Linked DNA regions of Homo sapiens. The protein of the gene in region 1 purifies or fractionates together with the protein of each later gene. This does not show direct contact. Each region holds a gene or a part of one and is shown on either strand. Other genes may lie near its edges.

Region 1 (3,500 bases):
CTCGGCTCACTGCAAACTTCGCCTCCCAGATTCACGCCATTCTCCTGTCTCAGCCTCCTGAGTAGCTGGGACTACAGGCGCCCGCTACCACGCCTGGCTAATTTTTTGTATTTTTAGTAAAGACGAGGTTTCACCATGTTGGCCAGGATGGTCTTGATCTCCTGATCTTGTGATCCTCTTGCCTCGGCCTCCCAAAGTCCTGGGATTACAGGCATGAGCCACCGTGCCTGGCCTGAACTACACTCTTAAGATAGAAGTGCTGACACTGTTTTACCCTGCTGAAGACAGCCTCCCCAGCCTTGCCCAGAAGTGAGCAGCACAGGTGGACAGTGCTTCTCTCTCCCTTACCATGTAGTATCCTGGAAGCAGCTTCTGCAGAAATTCCGCCTCTTTATGTTGGACTGTCTTAATAATGAACTCATCGTCGCTGGACACATAGAATAGGGAACCACTAGCTCCAGAGCTACAGAGTTCAATCAGCGGCTCACTGCAGAGGGAATACTGGGGCAAACAGAGAAGAACTAAGAGATTTAGACACATCAGGGCCTTGCCCAACACAAAAATCAACTACAGATGCAATTCTTTTCTAAATAAAAACCAGAGCGAGACTGTGGAGAAAAGGGGCCTTCCTTTGGGAATATCCCTCTGATACTGGAGTCACAGTGTCCTGATATCCAGATGCTTACCAAGTAATCATCGGGCCGGATACCAAATAGCTCCCGGAAGTAGCGGAAGGCAACAGGTGCATAGGTCTTGAAACGAAAGTCATTGTAGTGATGAGCAGGGGTCAGGTTGCTCCCTTCACTGTGGGGTTAAACAGAGGTAGCCATAACTTGCCAGTCCCTATCATCCAGAGAATCTACCTTGCGAAGACACTCAGAGTCACCTCATGGTGGGGGGAGTGGGGGAATACATTCCTCCTAAGATAATCACAGCCCTTCTTAGATGAGTTAGTGAGACAATGGCACAGCATGGACAGCAAGACATAAGAAGAAGAAGAAATCACACTGCCTCCTATCCAATGCATTAGGTTGTTTTTTACGGGTCAATCCATAGGACAGAGGCTAATGGAAGCATCTAGAGGACAGTATCTGCTCTCCGAACTCTCTAGTCCCACATCGCCCTGATTGTAACCAGGTTAAGAAATGGACACATGTCTAAATTGTCCGACCTGAACCCCTAAAACTGCCCTGGGCTGATTTGAAAAGGCCACATTTCCAGGACATGCTCCTGAACATTAAACTCTGTACCTGGGAAAGAAGATACTCTCAACCACGTAGAAATCTTGCATGAGGACATCACGCTCTGGTTTGGTACTCAGGCTCCCCACAGTGTGGGTAATGCCTAACTGGATGGCACCTTTCAAGGCTGATGAGGTTGTCTGAGAAACAAGAGAAATGAGAAGAAAATTCCTAGTATAAGTAGGATCATAACAATAAAAATTCAGAAAGGGGAAGCTAGAAGGAACACTTTAAAACAAACATCCTTTAGTCTGAGCAATAGTTCAGATAAAACTGGGACAATCCAGTTTCCCCATCCCTATGCTGTACTCTGCAATTAAGCTTAGTAAAGATTGGAAGGACAGTGAGGATACAGAGTAGCAAAGCTGGGACTCTCTGAGCCAGCCTCAGCTAGGCAAGGTGCTCCCTCCTGTTGGCCTGCCTAAACAAGAGTTCCATATTTGTATTTGGAAGATACATTGTATTGACACAACGTTCTTAGTTCTCACTCCTAAGGTTTCTGCCCCCAGAGTGTATCTGGAGCCCTCTAAACATTTCCTTCATCTGATATCGAATGTAACTAAAATTAACCAATATTCCTTTTTTTTTTTTTTTTTTTTGAGACTAAGTCTCACTCTGTCACCCAGGCTGGAATGGAGTACAGCAGCATGATCTCGGCTCACTGCAAACTTTGCCTCCCCGGTTCAAGCGATTCTCATGCCTCAGCCTCCCGAGTAGCTGAGATTACAGGCATGCACCACGACACCTTGCTTATTCTTTATATTTTTAGTACAGATGGGGTTTCACTATGTTGGTCAGGCTGGTCTCAAGCTCCTAACCTCAGAACTCCCAAAGCTCTGGGATTACGGGCATGAGCCACCATGCCCAGCCCTAAAATTAACCAATATTCTGATCTGACTGCCTGGCGGCAGAAACTTCAGTCCTCTAAGGAAGGGCCTGACTAGTGTGTCTCAAGGCCAACAGGGTGGGGTGGGCGCGGGCGGAGGCTCACGCCTCTAATCCAAGCACTTTGGGAGACTGAGGTGGGCAGACCACTTTAGGCCAAGAGTTCGAGACCAGCCTGGCCAATGTGGTGAAACCGTCTCTACTAAAAACACAAAAATTAGCTGGATGAGGTGGTGTGCACCTGTAGTCCCAGCTACTCAGAAGGCTGAGACAGGAGAATTGCTTGAAGCTGGGAGGCGGAGGCTGCAGTGAGCCAAGATCACACCACTGCATTCCAGCCTGGGTAACACAGCCAGACTGTCTCAAAAAAAAGGGCAACAGTGTGGTAAAAGAGCTCCTAACTGAAGAAGAAAGCATGAAAGACTCAAATTATTTCTGAGAGCAGTATTCAGACTTAGAATTATCAAACTTGGTCAAAACACAAATACAAGAGCCCCACTCTTACAATCCAGGATTCCAAGCCCGTGGGAAAGTATCGCATCATCTAGATCTTTGCTGTCTGATAACAGTAGCCACTAGGTACACATGGCTATTTAAATTTAAGTTAACTCAAATTTAAAACTTCATTTTCTCAGTCTTACTACTTACAGTTCAAGTGTGGCTACTAGCTACCATATTGGATAGCACAGATACAGCACATTTCAATCACTGCAGAAACTTTGATTAGATAGCTTTGCTCCATTTGCCTCATCCCCAACCTCGGCCAGGCATTACTTATATTTCTACTTGGTCCTCAATGGGCAATAAATTACAACTAGTTTTTTGTTTTTTTTTTCTTGAGACGGAGTCTCGCTCTGTCGCCCAGGCTGGAGTGCAGTGGCGTGATCTTGGCTCACTGCAAGCTCCGCCTCCCTGGTTGACACCATTCTCCTGCCTCAGCCTCCTGAGTAGCTGGGACTACAGGCGCAAGCCACCACACCCGACTAATTTTTTGTATTTTTTTTTTAGTAGAGATGGGGTTTCACCGTGTTAGCCAGGATGATCTCGATCTCCTGACCTCGTTATCCACCTGCCTCGGCCTCCCAAAGTGCTGGGATTACAGGCATGAGCCACCATGCCCAGCCTACAACTAGTTTTTTTCATGTACAAATAGGTCAAAGGAAAATAAATTATTAGTTTCTTTTTTTTTTTAAGTACCTGCCTCCCCAGTTATAATAGAAACTCATCTTTTTATCTTAATGTTCAACATATAAAAAGAGCTAAATGGCCGGGTGCTGTGGCTCATGCCTGTAATCCCAGCACTTTGGGAGGCCGAGACAGGCAGATTACCTGAGGTCAGGAGTTCAAGACCAGCCTGACCAACATGGAGAAACC
Region 2 (3,500 bases), on another chromosome or scaffold:
CAGAATGTGAGAATGTGGGTTACCATATGTGATACCCAGACCTGTGTGGTGGGTTATTTTTCACCCAACATTTAGGTAATTAGAATTAATGCCATGTGGCTATTTACTTTTCCTTCTGCCCCGTTGCTTTGATCCGATCTCCAAGCTTGAACAACTTTACTTGGAGAAGTAAAGCAGAATTATTTCTGCTTCACCAAATATACTTTGTTCTCTGTTGATTTGGATCTCAAGAGCAGAGATAACTCAAAATCACTTAGATTTATGGGCAGATAAAACAACAACAACAAAAGGTTTGGCTTTAAGCCAATCAAAGACAATCCCCACTGATCAATGACATAGACCAGGCTTATCATCAAAAAACAACACAAGGGGTCGAACAGCATCTTTCAGTCACTTTCCACTTAGAACTTGCTACTTAATGTGATTACACTTCTTGGGGGATAATTAAGTCTAGCAGAAGCTCCCAGGGGACCATGTTAACATCAATTGAGGGGATTTAATGTTTTTAATGCTAGAAGACCTTTTCCTTAGGAAGAAACTTCGGGGCTGGGGGGAAGAGTCCTCTCAGATCTCAGTTGGCTTTCTGCCTGAGTCAACCTTCCTGAGATCAAAGAGTGTTTTTTCCTGGAGTGTTGCACTCAGAGCCACACGAAGGACTTACGGGGACCTTTTAGAGTTCCCCTTAAAAAGTTAAGGAATGTTTAATAACCAGTAATTTACATATAAAGCTAGATTACCTAACAGGTTGTCAGGAAAGATCTGCTAAAATCTTACTTTCATTGCAGATAAATGTGGCGATACTATAAAAATTGAAAGCCCCGGGTACCTTACATCTCCTGGTTATCCTCATTCTTATCACCCAAGTGAAAAATGCGAATGGCTGATTCAGGCTCCGGACCCATACCAGAGAATTATGATCAACTTCAACCCTCACTTCGATTTGGAGGACAGAGACTGCAAGTAAGTGGGAATGTTTTTGAACAGGGCACCACAGCACCATCTAGTGGTCACGCCTGTCTACGGGGGGGAAGTCGGTGTGTACAATGTAGATTATAAATGGATCCAGGAGGGATTCCAATCTCAGCCAGATTATATGTCAATGGTATGGAAATTGAAGTACGTTAAGTGATTTCTGAGTTCCCCAAACCAGGAAGATTATAGTTAAATGTGTAAGCTCTTATACTCCTTCCTGTTAGCACTTTTGGTTTGGGAACTCTTGTTAAGAAATGTATACAGTATGTATGTTTCTTTTTTCTTTCTTTTTTTTTTTTTCCTGGAGAGGGGAAGAACTAGAAACTCAAAAATCTCACTTGTATTTTTACGAAATACAGTGGATCACTAATATACATCGCATCCACAGATAGTGTGATTGGAGATCTCACTATTTGAGATATATTGAACTGTGGCACATCTTATGATTTAAGAACTGCATTCATCTTACTAAGTAAGTTTGACATGGAAAAAGCAAATTGAATAAAATAAGGCCTACAGGATAAGCCAGATGAGGGGTTTTGTAAATGGTGGATTACTGATTAAAATACTTTTATGGAAAATGCTAGAAAATAATTGTTAAGACACGATGAATACAATGGGAACTCAAATACACATCAGTGTTTCATCCACCTGCTTAGTCTTGCTATCTCTTTCTATTGTTAAGTTTCTAAACATCAACTTATGCCCAATTTCGTTATTATGAAGACATTCTCACTATAGAGACAGTCGAAATTATATTTCCTCACTTTATGTGAAAGAACTGGTATGTGGATATTGCTTTCCACAGTATCGAAAGTATGTTTTTACCTTGCACGTAGCAGTCCACTCAGATACATGTTTGCTCGTCTCTCTTAACACCCAACAGACCCCCTGTCTCTGTCTTGTCCACATTATCCCATTCTGACCCACTGAAAGTGGTGTAGTCTCCAGAGACTTGAACCTGAATATCCATCTTTTAAGTTTGTACATATATAAATAGTTTTATCAAAGAAAAATAATCGATTTAAATCTCAATTCTAAAGTGTTTCTCAGGGACTGAGAGGTTTTCACAAGTTTTAAAGTGGGTCAGTTTGGTGTAACCGTATATGATATCTACAGACTACTGCTACCGCTGGACCTAAATATTATTTTGCAAGTATATTCATTGTTAAAGACAGTCTATTTGAACACACATTTCTTTTGGGAAAGAACAGAGTAATATCAAAATCTTCCTACCTGTAGGAAGTGCTCGACAACCTGTTGAGTTGGTTTAGTAAACTAGCTTTTCATGGTCAGAGAGATGAGGTCATTTGGTTCATTCAACATTTTAGTATCTAGAGAATTAGCATAAATCCACAGGCTGATGACCAGTTTCCAAATAATCAGTGTATACTACAGTGCAACAAAATTACACCAATTCCAATTTATCTTTGCTTTGTGATTCAGAAGTGCCTCAGGGCATTATATTGACTTTTTAATTGTGTATGGAAGTTACCATTAATAGTGTTCCAGTGACTGCTTGGAAACAAAGAGTTCATTGTATTGATTTATTTATTTTTGCTAATATTCTTTATGGTGGTTTTTACAGTGTCAATCACCTAGACAATCTGGAGACTTGTTTTCTTTTATATTTGATTTACTTCATTAGTAGTAGCAGTAGTTATTAGTATTTGCTTTTTGACCATGTTTAAACTGCTATAGGAGAAACTCTGGTAAAACATACTCAAGTAATAACATTATTCCAAAAAATAAAGTGCTGTTAGAATTCAATAAACTGACGTTTACTAATTTCTAATCTGGAAATCATGACCATCAATACGTGTAATATAATACTTAAAGAATTCAGAATAATCACTAGTTATTGGCAGTGATGTGGTGGTAAATGTTTAACAGCTGGCTCTTTGGAGAAGACGAGTCAAGTCCTCATTTGTATGTAGCACATGCCAATTTCTGTGGTGTAAATACTCTCATCATAGCCAATTTCAAACTAACCATGTGATGTCACTGTGCCCAGACTAGCAAAGAAATGTGCACAGTTGGTTCTTATGAGCTGGTGGGCGCCAGATCCAGCACACAACTGGAGTAGAAATTTAAGAAGGGAAGCCAGTTGAATCACTTAATATATGTAAAGGGCTTACAATTCTATTTGCACATACATTTCTTCTGGGAAAGAACAGAGTAATATAAAAATCTTCCTACCTGTAGAAAGCGCTCAACAACCTGTTGAGTTGGTGTAGTAAACTAGCTTTTCATGGTCAGGGAAATAAGGTCATCTGGTTCATTCAACATTTTGGTGCCTAGAGAATTAGCATAAATCCATAGGCTGATGATCAGTTTCCAAATAATCAGCGTATACTAATTATTACAACAGCATCTCACAGTATTACAATGGTGTCTAGCTCACAGTAAACCTTAAATAATGATTTGTCATATCATGGTGTCAGGTGGGGTATAATGGGATTAAAGGAGCACCTTTTTGGTTAGTTTTCTTTTTAAAAAGTACATTAAAAGATGATTGTAATTCACAG

The links. The genes of interacting proteins can lie anywhere in the genome.
Region 2: the proteins of PIP5K1A (region 1) and NRP1 purify together in Homo sapiens (affinity purification with mass spectrometry; 2 studies listed by BioGRID and IntAct, with this or other methods). This does not show direct contact.

The regions. Positions count from the first base shown.
Region 1 is NC_000001.11:151,229,552-151,233,051, reverse strand, and holds part of PIP5K1A (phosphatidylinositol 4-phosphate 5-kinase type-1 alpha), read right to left. Parts: intron 1,382-3,500; coding exon 1,251-1,381; intron 805-1,250; coding exon 687-804; intron 502-686; coding exon 349-501; intron 1-348. UniProt on the Homo sapiens protein: Catalyzes the phosphorylation of phosphatidylinositol 4-phosphate (PtdIns(4)P/PI4P) to form phosphatidylinositol 4,5-bisphosphate (PtdIns(4,5)P2/PIP2), a lipid second messenger that regulates several cellular processes such as signal transduction, vesicle trafficking, actin cytoskeleton dynamics, cell adhesion, and cell motility.
Region 2 is NC_000010.11:33,328,168-33,331,667, reverse strand, and holds part of NRP1 (neuropilin-1 isoform a precursor), read left to right. Parts: intron 1-785; coding exon 786-960; intron 961-3,500. UniProt on the Homo sapiens protein: Cell-surface receptor involved in the development of the cardiovascular system, in angiogenesis, in the formation of certain neuronal circuits and in organogenesis outside the nervous system. Mediates the chemorepulsant activity of semaphorins.